Homo sapiens: one gene and its partners. The protein of the gene in region 1 purifies or fractionates together with the protein of each later gene. This does not show direct contact. Each region holds a gene or a part of one and is shown in the gene's direction. Other genes may lie near its edges.

Region 1 (3,807 bases):
GTCCTGCAAGCTGCATTCGTGGTAGGTGCCCTATACAAGTATACTGTTTTTTATCTTTTATACCACATTTTTACTGTACCTTTTCTGTGTTTAGATGCACTAATGCTTACCATTGTGTTATAGTTGCCAGCAGTATTCAGTACAGTAACATGCTGTACAGGTTTGTAGCCTAGGAGCAAAGGTCTGGGTGTGTAGTAGGCTATCCTACCTAGGTTTGTGTAATATACTCTATGTTTGCACAATGACAAAATTGCCTAACCATGCATTTCTCAGGACATATCCCTGTCATTAAGCTACACATGACTGTACTTTGAAATCAGGCAGTGTGATGCCTCCGACTTCATTCTTTTCACTCAAGATTGCTTTGGCTATTCGGAGTCTTTTGTGGTTCCGTGTTAATTTTAGGATTTTTTTTTTTCTATTTCTGTGAAAAATGATGTTGGAATTTTTTTTTCTTTTTGAGACAGAGTTTCACCCTTGTCGCCCAGGCTGCAGTGCAATGGCACAGTCTCAGCTCACTGCAACTTCTGCCTCCCAGGTTCAAGTAATTCTCCTGCCTCAGCCTCCCGAGTAGCTGGGATTACAGGGGCACATCACCACGCCTGGCTAATTTTTGTATTTTTAGTAGAGACGAGGTTTCACCATGTTGGCCAGGCTGGTCTGGAGCTCCTGACCTCAGGTGATCTGCCCACCTTGGCCTCCCAAAGTGCTGGGATTACAGGTGTAAGCCACCGTGCCCGGCAGAATTTTTTTTTTTTCTTTTTTCCTGAGACAGGGTCTGGCTTTGTTACCCACGCTGTTGTGCAGTGGTGCAATCTCGGCTCACTGCAAACTCCACCTCCTGGGCTCAGCCTCCTGAGTAGCTGGGACAACAGGCTCCAGCCACAACACCTGGCTGATTTTTTGGTATTTTTTATAGAGACAGGGTTTCACCATGTTGCCCAGGCTGGTCTCGGGCTCCTGAGCTCAAGCAGTCCACCTGCCTTGGCCTCCCAAAGTGCTGGAGATTACAGGTGTGAGCCATCACACCTGGCCTGCCATTGGAATTATGATAAAGATTGCGTGGAACCTATAGATTGCTTTGGATAGTATGGACATTTTAACAATATTCTTCCAGTCCATAAACAGAGGATATCTTACCATTTATTTGTATCATTTTCAGTTTCTTTCATCAATATTTTATAGTTTTCAGAATGCTATTAAGGTTTTTTTTTTTACATTTATTAAGTTCTACAATTACAGTACATTGCTGCAAACAGTGTTCTGTGGCAGAAATATAACATGGTGGCTCACACCTGTAATCCCAGCAGTTTGGGAGGCCAAGGCGGGTGGATCACTTGAGGTTAGGAGTTGAAACCAGCCTGGCCAATAGGGCGAAACCCCATCTCTACTAAAAATACAAAAATTAGCTGGGCGAGGTGGCGCACACATGTAATGCCAGCTACTCAGGGGGCTGAGGCAGAAGAATAGCTTGAACCCAGGAGGCGGAGGTTGTGGTAAGCCGAGATTACACCACTGCACTCCAGCCTGAGTGAGACTCCATCTAAAAAAAAAAAAAAAAAAAGAAGAACCAGGAATGGCATCCTAGAGTTACTGGGGCCCTTTTCTCAACTACACAGATTGTCAAACTTGGCAATATTACAAAACAATTCTGAAGACAATAAAATTATCTCTAAACCTAAACTGTCCAGTAGAGTAGCCACTAACCCCTATAGCTATTGAGCATTTGAATGTGGTCAGGCCAAACTAAGGTGTGCTATAGCAATATACAAACTACATTTCAATGACTTTGTACAAAAAAGAATGTAAAATATCCCTATAATAAAAAAAAGACGTAAAATATCCCATTAATCATTTGTTAGTTGATTACATGTTGAAATGATATTTTGGATATGTTGGGTTAAGTAAAATGTTAAAATTTCAGCTGTATTTTTTTTTTCTTTTCCGATGTGGCTACTAGAAAATTTAAAATGACACATGGCTCACATTTTACTTCTTTTAGCCAGTGCTGCTCTAGACTGAGTTTGCATGAGGTGTAACTGTCTAGAGCTATAGTGACATGTAAGTAATATACATGCTTTGTACAAAATCTCCCTATAAACTGCTGATTTTGAAATTGAAGTCATGAAAGACAGATTGAACCGATAGAGTCCTTTGAGAGTCACCAGTTACTGGTCCACTCTCTGTATCCTTTTGATATTTGCATTTGGCAAGTATAAACCCGACCAGGATAGGGGATGGGGGGAGGAATCCACTGGTTATTTGATGCAAAAAAAGAGGGAGAAAAAGTGGGGGGGTGCACTTATAGTCCCAGCTACTTGGGAGGCTGAGGTGGGAGGATCACTTGAGCCCAGGAGTATGCGTTTAGCCTGGGCAACATATGAAACCCCATCTCTTTTTTAAAAAAGGAAAAAAATGGTGAATAAGAGCAATGGTCATTGGCTGACAAGTAACAAACTATACATAAGAGAACTGTTAACCTAGTAGAGATTTTCATTGTGATCTATTACCTACAAAGTCTTCCTGTGGTTTCTCTTTAGGGGCAAGCTCTGTGTGATTGATTGGAAGACATCAGAGAAACCAAAGCCTTTTATTCAAAGTACATTTGACAACCCACTGCAAGTTGTGGCATACATGGGTGCCATGAACCATGATACCAACTACAGCTTTCAGGTCAGGACACTGAGCCTTTACTTAAAGCTTTGCTCAATGCTTACTTAAAACTATAACTCCGGGCCGGGCGCAGTGGCTCATGCCTGTAATCCTAGCACTTTGGGAGGCCAAGGCCGGTGGATCACTTGAGGTCAGGAGTTCAAGACCAGCCTGGCCAATATGGTGAAACCCTGTCTTTACCAAAAATACAAAAACTAGCTGGGCATGGTGGCTCATGCCTGTAATCCCAGCTATTCTAGTAGCTGAGGCAGGAGAATTGCTTGAACCCGCGAGGTGGAGGTTGTAGTGAGCCAAGATTGCGCCACTACACTCCAGCCTGGGCAAGAGAGTGAGACTCCATCTCGAATCTGTCTCAAAAAAAAAAAAAAAAACTTCTCAGTGGGGGGGTAGGAGGAGAAAAATTGTAAAAAAAAAAAAAGTTAAAAAATAGAACTCCTTGAGGTTTTTCCTTTTTTAATCTCTATTTTTATCCCATTGCTTAACGTCTTCCTTGTTCCTTTCCCACTTAAAAAAGCACTTTTTGGCTGGGCACAGTGGCTCACGCACTTTGGGAGGCCGAGGCAGGCAGATTGCTTGTGCTCAGGAGTTTGAGTCCAGCCTGGGCAACATAGTGAAACCCCGTATCTACAAAAAAAATACAAAAATTAGCTGGACATGGTGGCGCACACTTGTGCCAGCTACTTGGGAGGCTGAGGTGGGAGGATTGCTTGAGCCCAGGAAGTGGAGGTTCCAGTGAGCCGAGATTGTACCACTGCACTCTAGCCTGGCCGACAGAGCAAAACCCTGTCTCAAAAATAAATAAATAGGCCAGGTGTGGTGGCCCAAGCCTATAATTCCAGCACTTTGGGAGGCCGAGTTGGGCAGATCACCTGATGTCAGGAGTTCAAGACCAGCTTGGCTGACATGGCGAAACCCTGTCTCTACTAAAAATACAAAAATTAGCTGGGCGTGGTGGTGTGTGCCTCTAGTCCCACCTACTTGGGAGGCTGAGGCAGGAGAATCGCTTGAACCCAGGAGGCGGAGGTTGCGGTGAGCCAAGGTTGTTCCACTGCACTCCAGCCTGGGCAACAGAGCAAGACTGTCTCTCTCCAAATAAATAAATAAATAAATAAATAAATAAATAGCACTTTTTGG
Region 2 (4,002 bases), on another chromosome or scaffold:
ATACACAGTTAGTTCTCCATATCTGTGAATTTCCCATTCTCAGATTCAACTAATTACAGATTGAAAATATTTTAAAATTTTAGTTGGGCACAGTGGCTCATACCTGCAATCCAAGCACTTTTTGAAGGCCAAGGCAGGAAGACTGCTTGAGCCCAGGAGTTGGAGACCAGCCTGGGCAACATGGCGAAACCCCCTCTCTACTAAAAATACTAAAATTAGCTGGGTGTGGTGGTGCGTGCCTTTAGTCCCAGCTACTTGGGAGGCTGAGGTGGGAGGATTGCTTGAGCCTAGGAAGTCAAGGCTGTAGTGAGCCAAGATTGTGCCACTGCACTCCTGCCTGGGCAACAGAGTGGGAGCCTGTCTGAAAAACAAACAAAAACACGAAAATAATGGAACAGTAAAAATACCACAAACAAAAAAGCAAATTAGTACAACAGCTCTGTACCTAGCATTTGCATTGTATTATGTATTATAAGTTATTCAGAGATTAAGGTATACAGGAGGATGTGCACAGGTTATATGCAAATACTACACCATTTTATATAAAGGACTTGCACATCTGCAGATTTTTCTCACTCTAAAGTCAGTCCTATTAACTGCTAATTATCCAATATCCCTCTCAATGCTTAATCCAAATAATTGTTAAACACATGAAAGAGAAGAGTGTCAAGACCAAAAGCCTTGGAGTGCACTACCAGAAATTTCCCTCTATTCAACAGAACCATTTTTATGATCATTCAACAATATCCTCAAATCTTTTTTTTCCATTTCTCCGTGAATTAAAAAAATTTTAAATGAACCATGTGTAATGCTTTGGTGAAGTCCATATATATGCCTTCTATGTATATTCCCGAGTGGCCATTGCAGCAGACGTTCTCAAAAAAGAAATGAGGATGTCTTTTCCTCATTTGGTTGGTTAAAAAATGTTGAGCCCCTAAAATCAATTTGTGGTTAAATGTTACAAAATAAAATTTAGTATGTAGCTTAAAATAGAATATATCTTTATTGTTCTTTAGAAATAATATATATTATAGCACTTAACTGCCTTCTGCTAGTCTAAGGAACATGTTTGTGGGAAATAATATTGATACAGAATTTACAAATTGAACTGTCATAATTTTCTTTAAAATATATCTATATCTATATCTATATCTATATCTATATCTATATATATCTACCCCAAAGTCTTGAAAAAGGGAAGTGAAGTAAAATTTAAAAACAAGAGGGTAGAGGGGAACTAACATATAGGAAAAGTAAGATTGCAAAACATAAGGTGAAGGTAACATAATGTTTCCTTACAATCTACTTTTAATGAAGTTGATGTTAAGCATGGTAGCAAGCAATATAAAGCGGAAGAAAAGATGAAAGATTTACTGGGCCAGTATGGTGGTTCATGCCTCTAATCCCAGCACTTTGGGAGGCCAAAGTGGGAGGATTGCTTGAGTTCAGGAGTTCGAGATCAGTCTGGGCAACATGGTGAAACCCTGTCTCTAGAAAACCTACAAAAATTAGCTGGGTGTGGTGATGCACACCTGGTGGGAGGATCACCTGAGCCCAGGAGGTTGAGGCTGCAGTGAGCTGAGATCATGCCACTGCACTCCAGCCTGGGTGACAGTGGAAGACCCTTTCTCAAAAAAAAAAAAAAAATTACTGCTCATGAAAACCATCTACTCAGATTATATACAATTATTACTAATACAGGTATCAGAAAGTTATGTATTGCAAACTCAAAAAGAAGAAACTGTAATGTTACAAGCAAAAGCTTCCTGAATAGGAGGTTAATCAGACTGTTTTATGTAAGTGCCCTAAAAGCAGTTTGTGCTTTTAAAGTCCAGTACCAGAATATGGTTTAATAAAATAAATTGATGTTATGGTTCAAGTATATAATTCTTTCTGGTCCCTGGTTTACTTCAGGGAAAGGATTAGACTGTGCATGGCAAAACAGTTCTTGATTCGTGGGTGAACACCACGGTATTCTCTGAAGGTTTATAAACCAAACCATAAAAAAAATGCACCCTGCCTTGTACCTACATATTTGGGTTCAATTTATATATTCCTAGCCCACTGTCAGTGAGTGACAATGATTAATCTTACTGTAAATATTTTGTGCTAACCACTATGATATGTGCTTTGATTTTATTATAGACACTTATATAGCTAAGAGGTATCTTTTTGTGGCAAGAGTTTTATTTGGGCTTTTTATAGTGGATATTATTACATATGAATATATAGTGATTTTGATAGATAATATAGCCTAAAAAACAACTCAGACACTAATTTCATAGCTTTAGTCTGCTGACTTTTTCCCCTCTGATCATTATACAGCCAAATCATTAAAATTCCAGATATCCTTCTGAAAAGTTTTATATTTGTTATTATTTGGTTTTTTATTGCTTGATGGTAGAAATTCCTTCAGTACTGTTTAGTGAAATTCTTTTTATAATGAGACACACATGTTTAAAAACAGTATTTTAATCTTCTAATAACAGATTTGGGGAAACATATGAAAAGGGTCAATTTTTCTGTATTTTTAAAATTTCAGATGAGCTTTTCAAATAATAGACTAGTCTATGTGTAGAATTTTATGATACTCTATACAGTTATGATTAACTTAAATTTTTTTCCATTATAGACTCCACGTTTTGCAAAGATCGGTTTTGCCTCAGAGTCAACAAACTCTTCAGATTGGTTCCGGTGTGTCCTATGTTTACAAGTCAGTGGAAATTAAGCACAACACATATAAATTGAAAAGTCAAATAAGGAAATGAATTACCTCCCTTGACGGCTCTAATTTTACTTGTAAGTTAAATTCAGAGTTAGCTTAAAATCATTTAAATGTTTAATTACAGAACAGAGTTTAAGTAGCATAGAAAGTCAGTATTACATGATTAAAAGTTTTCAGAACATATTTTAACATATGATCTAGTATTTAATATGGTTTAGTTGCATATTGCTTCTACCAGAGAACACGTGATAAGCCCCACTATGTGTCTGTGACATTACTTCAGGCAATTTACATGAACATTGCACAGGTATTATACTGCATTTTACGTAACTAAAAACTTGACTTGTCTGGCATACATTTTTGTTTTAATGGTGAGTATATTTCCAAAGACAAGGACTTGGTCAATATGGGAAATTATAGAGCTTCTTTGGATGCCAGAATAATTGTTGTCTCTCATCATTGGAAACATTCCTGAGGTTCTTGGCTGTGGCCCTGGGGTCTGGAAATTGAGTTAAATCTCTCCACTGATGATTATAGGGTTAGAAACAAAAGTGATGGTTCTGTGCAGATAAGGTTATATGTAGCCTTTGACCTCATTGCTGATTATTAATTTTTCTTAACTATTTGTATAATATACCTTTCACCTTGGCTCTTTTTAAAGCCTTCAATATGAATAATATGTAACAATGATTCTTAATATGCGTGTAAAAGGCACATAAGAAAGAAAATGTCATACCTTTGTCCTGTAGTTTGGAAAACTAAGCATTTTATAAGCAAATATGTTCTTTTATTCTGGTTTCCTGTTATGACTTCTATAAGAAATTTATGAGTAATATAGTCTGTCACAATGTTCATATAACTGAAGAGAAATTAAATATAAAGAATATTGTTCAACTTTTGTGAATTGCAAGTAGATAGCACTCCAACTCCAAATCATCTTTATATGTGATATAAACTGATAAACCATGAAATAATTTTCATTAAAAGATCTCAATATGAAAAGAAATAGTAATTTGATTTAGTGTATATATACTTTTAAAAGCATCTACAATCTGGCACTTTGTGAATACAAGTTTCTGTTTTTTATAGTTACAAATTTTGTCAAAGTTTTGATTTTTCAGTGTCTTGAGATTTTAAAAGATATCATTAAAAGGATAATATGCAATATATAAGAATTTGGGTTGGAATACTTTTTTTAATTCCATAAGTTTGGAAGATTTTTAAACAGTTTATGTACCATGGGCATGGTTATATTCAGTCCTATTGGGATTTTAACA
Region 3 (4,002 bases), on another chromosome or scaffold:
CATGTGCCCCTTTATACCGTTTGTTTCTTTATTTTTACAAAAAAATTTAAAAATATGGACTGCTTTATGAATTAGCATGTCATCCTTGTGCAGGGCACATACTAATCTTCCCTGTACCATTCCAATTTTAGTATTTGTGTTGTGGAAGTGAGCACTCTATTCCTGTTTTTATCTGGACAAAATAGTATTTTAAAAATGTATTATGGGCTGGGCTAACATGGTGAAACCCCGTGGCTACTAAAAATACAAAAAATTAGCCAGGCATGGTGGCAGGCACCTGTAGTCCCAGCTACTCGGGAGGCTGAGGCAGGAGAATGGCGAGAACCCAGGAGGCAGAGCTTGCAGTGAGCCGAGATCACGCCACTGCACTCCAGCCTGGGCAACAGAGCGAGACTCCGTCTCAAAAAAAAAAAAAATAAAAGTATATTACGTTATTAAAAACTTTATGATTGAAGTATATAATACATATACAGAAAAATGCATGTAAAAGTGGAATTTGATGTTTTTTTCCCACAAACTGAATATACCCATGTAAGCAGCACCTAGATCTAGATCAAGAAACAGCGTTACCAGTACCTAGAAGCCCCTATCCAGTTCCCTTTCAGTTCCTGTCTCCCCTCTACCACCCAGGGTAATCACCATCCTGACTTCTGACAGCATAGATTATTTTGCTCTTTTTTTGTACTTTTGTAAAAATTGAATCATATAGTATATATTGTTTGTGGTCTGGCTCCTTTTATTTAACACTAATGTGACCGTGCAAAAATTTTTAGTGGTTTTTAGATTTGGAATAAAATTCAAATTTCAGCTTTTTTTTTTTTTTTTTTTTTTTTTTGAGACAGTCTCGTTCTGTCGCCCAGGCTGGAGTGCAGTGGCGCGATCTCAGCTCACTGCAACCTCCACCTCCTGGGTTCAAGCCGTTCTCCGCCTCAGCCTCCCAAGTAGCTGGGATTAAAGGTGCCTACCACCACGCCTGGCTAATTTTCGTGTTTTTAGTAGAGACGGAGTTTCACCATGTTATGTTGGCCAGGCTGGCCATGAACTCCTGACCTCTTGATCCACTCACCTCAGCCTCCCAAGGTGCTGGGATTACAGGCGTGAGCCACTGTGCCTGGCCATTTCAGTTCTTTATTTTGACCTATAATGCCCTGTATAGCCCGTCTCCTGGCTACTTTTCGGGTAGGCAATTGGCATTTTATGCCAATCTCATTGCCCATTATGCCTCTGTTACGCTAACTTCTTATTTTTATTCTTATTTTATTTAATTTTTAGAGATGGGGTCTTACAATATTGCTCAGGCTGGTCTCAAACTCCTGGCCTCAAGCTGTCCTTTGGCCTCCAGAGTAGCTGAGATTACAGGCATGAGCCACTGGCCTTATTTATTTTTAAACTCAGTGAGCTGTTTCCTACCTCAGGGCCTTTGTATGCATGGCTCTGTCTTCCTCGAACACTTCTTTTCCCTGCTCTTTGCATGGCTGCCTTCATGCCTGAGCTTATGTATAAATATCAGGGATACTTTTTCTCATCATCGTGTCTTGCTAGTCCTTTCCCATTATTCCCTATTACTGGCTTCTGTTGCCTCCTTTCATAGCACCTATTGCAATTTATGATTATATATCTGCGTGCATGATTATTATGTCTTCCCTGCTAGATTCCATGAAAGCAGAGAACTCATCTGTTTTGTTCTCCAGTGTATCTCTAGTGCCTAACACAGTGACTGACATAGAGTAGGTATTTAATAAATATTTAATGGCCATATTCCCAATTCAGCACCTTTGGTCCCATTATCTTTTGTCCTTTCCTCTTATGCTGTTTAACTATTTAAATCTTTTCCACCCCTCAAGACTGAGCTCAGTTCTCCCTCTTTGAAGTCTATCATGGTTTTGCAACAGTTAATCTTTCTTCTCTAAAATTTTATAGCATTTATTGCCAGTACCACCTTGTGTTCATGGAAAATCACACTATCACATATCTTATTTTACCTAGTTGTATCAAAAGCTTCTTATTTTCTCAGAAATCTTGTAGCTTGTTATGCCAGTACCCCTCATATTTTTGGTTAACTTGACCAGCTTCTATTAATATCTTAATTAGCTAATTTGACTGGAAGCTTCTCGATCAGAAGCTGTTTTAGCTAATGCCCTCCTCAGTTATTTTCACTGGCACATAGTAGGTCTTTAGTAGAGTTTTTGATGACCAATGATATTTATGTATAGGTAGCAATTTTAATTTCTTAAGCTTATTAACTTGGATTCTTTTTATTAGAATCCTGCTTAGTATTTTCTCTAATCTAAAGGCCGGGAGTGCACCAACTGCTTCCGGCGATATAGAGACTATTAGGGTGTGAAAGTACAGGAGTCCAGTCCTAATGCCACAAAGCAGATTCTCCTTTGGAACTTGTCACTGGTGTAGAATTAACTATGCAGAGTTCCTTCTTAGAAAAAATGCTTTATCAGTGCTTGTTTAATGTTCTCAGATTGGAATTACTAACAGAAACAAGACACTAGGTAGTACTTTATTTGAATTTTCTGTTGACTAACATTTTATTTTGATGTCAACAAAGCAAATCTTGAGCCAATTAAATCTGCTTAAAGCTGCTTTGTCTGATGGGTAAGCTCTCTCAGTAGTTACTCTTCCTCTTGTGTTAAAGGCAGAAGAATGTTCTATAAGCCAATTTAAATGCAAATTTAAATTAGTAGCAACTTAGTTGATTTAACTCAGTACATATTTCAAATTAAGTGGTAAATTTAAATTAGTTTTTAGGAGGTACCTACTGTGTATTTTAAATCAGTGATTATTTTGGCTTTTCTGATGAAACTACATCAGAATATTACAGGGTAATGTAGTAATTGGTTTGTTTTTGTTTTTGTTTTTTGAGACGGAATTTTACCCTTGTTGCCCATGCTGGAGTGCAGTGGCGTGATCTTGGCTCACTGCAACCTCCACCTCTTGGGTTCAAGCGATTCTTCTGTCTCAGCCTCCCGAGTAGCTGGAACTACAGGCGCATGCCACCATGCCCAGCTCATTTTTGTATTTTTAGTAGAGACAGGGGTTTCACCATGTTGGCCAGGCTGGTCTCGAACTCCTGACCTCAAGTAATCCGCCTGCCTTGGCTTCCCAAAGTGTTGGGATTACAGGCATGAGCCACCGCGTCTGGCGTGATACTGATATTATTAGCCATTGGCTATGTGACAGGCACTATCCTAAGCATTTTTCATACATTAGTTTATTTACTCATTCACTCAACAAATATTTATTGAGTACCTATCATGTTTCAAGCTCATAATCTCATGTATTCTTCACCACACCCATGAAGTAAGTATATAGTTTATTATTTTAACCCCATTTTACAGATGAGGAACTGGTACACACAGAAGCTAGATATCCAGTGTCACAAGCTGTTGAGGGTCAGATACTGAGGTTTTTTAAAAGAATGCCAGTTAGTGACATCTTTGGCATGAATTAATTCTATGCTAGATTTTTATCTTTGGGAGGGGAGCAGTAATCAAATTTTTTTTTTTGAGACAGAGTCTCGCTCTGTAGCCCAGGCTGGAGTGCAGTGGTGTGATCTCGGCTCACTGCAAGCTCTGCCTCCCGGGTTCACGCCATTCTCCTGCCTCAGCCTCCCGAGTAGCTGGGACTACAGGTGCCCGCCACCACGCCTGGCTAATTTTTTTGTATTTTTAGTAGAGATGGGGTTTCACCATGTTAGCCAGGATGGTCTCAATCTCCTGACCTCGTGATCCGCCCTCCTCAGCCTCCCAAAGTGCTGGGGTTACAGACCTGAGCCACCGTGCCTGGCCAGTAATCAAATTTTGAAGTCTCTGGTAAACTGTAGTCAAAATGATTAGAACAGAATGTGATAAGCTAAACTGAGATTACTTCTTCTCTTACCCCCAACCCATCTCTTTTTTTTTTTTTTTTTGAGATGGAGTCTTGCTCTGTCAGCTCACTGCAACCTCTGTCTCCCGGGTTCAAGGGCTTCTCCTGCCTCAGCCCCCTGAA
Region 4 (4,002 bases), on another chromosome or scaffold:
CAGAGTCTTTGGGCAGAGCACCACTGGATGGCGGCGTCATTCCCGAGATGGAGAGCTGAGTGGGGCCAGGGGAGAGGGCAGGTTCAGTTCCATTTCAGGTGGGTTGAGTTCAGGCGCCTGTGAGACATCCACAGCAAAGTTTGGCAGGCAGGCGGCTGTGAACCTGAGGCTCCAGGGAGAAACAAGGCTGCAGAAATCTTGTGTGGGGGTAACCCAGGGCATGTGCAGAGAAGAGGGCCCAGCCAGACCAAGCCCCAAGGACCCCGAGGAGCATGCAGTGGGTGTCGTGAAGTGGGGGGTGGCAGTGACCTTGGAGAGAAAGATTTTTCTGGAGTGTGGTGAGAACAGAAGCCAGATTTACTGTGGGTTGAAAAGTCAGTGGGAGGGAAGGAGGTGGACACAGCCAGTGTAGACCAAGTTTTTTAAAGAAACGTGGCTGCTGGGGAGGAGAGAGACCAGGTAGTAGCTGGGCCTGCCTTGGGATGAAGGGGAGGTGTCATCAGAGAAGGTTCCTGCATGTGGAACACTAACGGGCAAAGGTGGGAGAGAGGGAGGATGACCCAGGAGGGGGCCCCGGAGTGGGCAGGGGAGGTGGAGCCAGGTGGGGTCCTGTCCTGCGAGGGGAGGGATGGCAGCTGTGGGGTGGGAGGAGGGCAGGTGGAAAGCCATGCATGGACACGGAAGGCAGCGGGTTTGATGATGGGAAGCTGAGGGTTTCGCCTCTGACACCTTCAGCTTTTTCCCTAAATAAGAGGAAGTGTCACCTGCCCAGGATGCGTGGGAGCAGGGGGTGGGTGGCCAAGGAGAGGAGAGCAGAGCAGGTATCCAGTGGCCTCTGGAGAGTGGGCGAGGGAGCTGACCTGGCTATGGGGGCAGGGGTGGGGTGGTTGTCTGCAGTGGTTGGGGGTCCAGCCAAAGTCAAGGACAGGGAATTTTGAGGGTCTCCATTACATGGTCAGGTTCAAGTAGGAGTGGGGTGCATGGTGGGGTTCTCCGAAGCAGGGCTTCTGCCAGCAGCGTGGGAGGGACCCTTGGGCTAGGGAGTAGCTGAAGGGATGGCCCCTGGAATCGGGACTGCAGGGGAAGATGTAAAGACTGAGTGGTCGGAGTGTGGAGTGTGGGCGCTTAGGTCTAGGGGACTGGAAACAGAGAAGCAGGAGTGAGTGGGGTGCTGGAAGGACAGGCGACTGAGGAGCCCAGGAGGGTGGGGTTTGGATGGAAGGAGTTGAGGTGGAGCAGCCCTGGGTGGTCATCAGGTCCAGGGAATGGCCCTGGGCAGGGCTGTGGTAGGTCTGCAGTGCAGTGGACATGGTTCTTGGGGGTGAGGGAGATGCAGAACTCAGAGGCCAGTGTGTAGGATGTCCACCCACGTGGACACACCATCAGAAGAAAGAGATCTGGTCTGGGCTGGAAGGGATGCTGTGAGCCCCGCGGCGGGAGGGCGGTGGAGAAGGAAGATGTGTCACTAGGTAGGGCATGTGAGCCCTGGCTGGGGTGGACACGGGGGTGCAGGGGGCAGAGCTCTGGGGCCCAGGGTGGTCCTCACTGCAGCTCCCAGCCCCACTATTTGCCCCTTCCCACTCCCCCACTTTTCCTCTCTGTTCTCTCTCCACAGATTGAAACATCCCAATTAGAGCCGGAGATAGCCCAGGCCACGAGCAGCCGGACAGTGGTGTACAACAAGGGGTTGTGAGTGTGGTCAGCGGCCTGGGGACGGAGCACTGTGCAGCCGGGGAGCTGAGGGGCAGGGCCGTAGACTCACGGCTGCACCTGCAGGGAGCAGCACGCCAACCCCAGCAGTCCTGGGCCCCCTGGGAGAGTGCTCAACCTACAGTGGAGGGAGACTGACCCATTCACATTTTAACATAGGCAAGAGGAGTTCTAACACATTTCGTACAAAAAAATAATCAAGTGCATTTCTGGGCCTTATGTGGGGTTGTCAAAACTCCACTCAGCACAATTATGTGTGAAGCTGAAAAATTGTAGAGTGCCCATGGGGTAGAAGTAGAATCCTTTTATACTTTGGTTCCTTTTTTATTTTTATTTTTTATCAGAATCAAATCTGAGCCTTAGTTTCAGCTGACCAGAAGTGGCAGGAGGACAGGTGGAGGCGAGCCAGATTAGGCCTGGAGTTGGGCTGGTTTGGTGGCCAGGCTGGTAAATTTAGGATATTACAATGGCCAGCCCAGATGGCTCCCTGGGCTGGCATGGGGAGGGGAGAGAAGGTGGTCTGCACCCCACAGGATGAACTAGCCATGACTAGGGTCCTCAGGCAGTGGCCCAGGGAATCAGGGAGCACTGGAGGCCTCTGCAAGATTCTGTGGGCAGCTGGCTCTGAATGTAGCCAGCCCACATCCATTCCAGAGCTGCAGAACCAGTCCCTCTGAGTGAAGTCCAGTGACCCTGGAGCTAGGGTCCCCCTTCGTGGAGCTCTAACTGATTCAGGGCCCCTGAAGTGACCCCAGCTCCAGGCAGGAAACCCCGAGAAGGAATGGTGCTTGGCAGGAACCATGGACCTGCACTTGGCCTCTTCGGGAAGATCCTCCTTCCAGGCCCCAGGCTGGATGCTGGGTTCTGGGGCTGAGAGTGGGGCTAGACTGGGCTGGCTGCCTTCTGCGGAGCTTCTCCAGCCACCAAGGCTGCCTGCCCCATCCCATCCCTTTCTAAGCAGGAAGGTCTCATGCCTGAGAATGCCTAGGCCAGCTCCTTAGACACCTATCAGAGAAGCAGCATCAACCTAGGAGCAGTGGGCCCTGGCTCTGTCACTAAATGGCAGTGAGATGTCAGACAAATTCATTCCCTTCTCTCAGCCTCCACTCCCTGTCTGAAACCAGAAGACTGGATCAAGGGGTTCCCACTGGCTCCTCCAGCAAGACCTCGTCTTTGCTTGTCCTGCTCAGATGCTGGTCATCCTGGGCATGTCCCCAGTGTGGACTCTGGACTGGGAAGGGGGCAGGCCCCTTTGGACCTGCAGTTGGCCTCAGCAGAAGGCCTTGCCTTGTGTATGTGACTCCATATCCCGGGAGCAGTTGACCTTTGCCAAACACTTTACAGTTCTGGAGGAGGAGGTAACATAGATGCCTGGGCCTGATGGTGGGGCCATACCCATGTGTCGCCTCTCACTCTGGCAGCCTCAGAGGCCCCTTGCTGCTGGCTCCCATCTCCCTCCCATTTGCAGACCAGGAAGGAAGAGCAAGCTGTACAAAGGGAAGCAGAGCCTGGGGTGGGTGTGAGCAGGGTGACCCCTCATCTGAAAGGCCCAAACCAGGGGGAAGCACCAGCCTCAGTGCAGCCCCCTCCTGACCCCACCTAGAATGGAAGCCTCCACCTGCAGCCCCAGGCCTCCCTCCCCCGGGGTCTCCACCTCAGGGGAGACTTAGGCCAGAGGTGAACATTCATGTGTAGGAAGAGGCCGCTGCAGGGTGGCATCTTAGGGTAGGGGAAGTGTGCTGAGGTGGGCCTTCCATGGGCATGGCCGTTGCCTCTCTGCCAGCCGCTGGTGCCCACCAGCTGGCTCTGCAGCACATTGCCCTGAGGGGCCTGCCACTCTCCTGAGGAGCAGCCCACCTGCTGCCCGTGAGGAGGGGGAGAAGGGTTAGACAAGCCTGGAGGACAAAACAGCGGGAGTGTGGGGGTGCCATGGTGTTGGAGGGGCAGGCCTTTTTGAGCCAATCCCACCATAATGTGAATATGCCAGTGACTGCTGCGCTGTGCTGGTCTCTAGGCCTGAACTAGGTGCTGGCATGTCTGGGTCGTCTTTTGAAAAGCTCACTTCAAGCTCACCCTGCTCCTACCTATCATAAGGTCTTATTCTTGTGCACTTTATCTTGGGACCAAAACTGCCTACCCACCCCTTCCCGCCCTCCCCCTGCCAGAGGCCTGGTGCCCTGGCCCAGCCTGTGGCCTCAGCATCTCATAACTCATTTGCTTTGTCTCCCGGATGATTTCCGTCATGCTCCCAAATGCAGCTTCAGGTGAGCCAAGGGGTCTGCTCCTGTGGCG

What was found. Proteins that work in one complex are often made in the same cells at the same time.
Region 2: the proteins of MGME1 (region 1) and THNSL1 purify together in Homo sapiens (affinity purification with mass spectrometry; 2 studies listed by BioGRID and IntAct, with this or other methods). This does not show direct contact.
Region 3: the proteins of MGME1 (region 1) and LUZP1 purify together in Homo sapiens (affinity purification with mass spectrometry; 2 studies listed by BioGRID and IntAct, with this or other methods). This does not show direct contact.
Region 4: the proteins of MGME1 (region 1) and SFXN5 purify together in Homo sapiens (co-immunoprecipitation; one large-scale study listed by IntAct). This does not show direct contact.

Annotation. Positions count from the first base shown.
Region 1 is NC_000020.11:17,985,626-17,989,432, forward strand, and holds part of MGME1 (mitochondrial genome maintenance exonuclease 1 isoform 2 precursor), read left to right. Parts: intron 1-2,540; coding exon 2,541-2,673; intron 2,674-3,807. UniProt on the Homo sapiens protein: Metal-dependent single-stranded DNA (ssDNA) exonuclease involved in mitochondrial genome maintenance. Has preference for 5'-3' exonuclease activity but is also capable of endonuclease activity on linear substrates.
Region 2 is NC_000010.11:25,019,110-25,023,111, forward strand, and holds part of THNSL1 (threonine synthase-like 1), read left to right. Parts: intron 1-2,632; 5' UTR 2,633-2,799; intron 2,800-4,002.
Region 3 is NC_000001.11:23,158,857-23,162,858, reverse strand, and holds part of LUZP1 (leucine zipper protein 1), read left to right. Parts: intron 1-4,002.
Region 4 is NC_000002.12:72,942,713-72,946,714, reverse strand, and holds part of SFXN5 (sideroflexin-5), read left to right. Parts: intron 1-1,615; coding exon 1,616-1,693; 3' UTR 1,694-4,002. UniProt on the Homo sapiens protein: Mitochondrial amino-acid transporter. Transports citrate. Does not act as a serine transporter: not able to mediate transport of serine into mitochondria.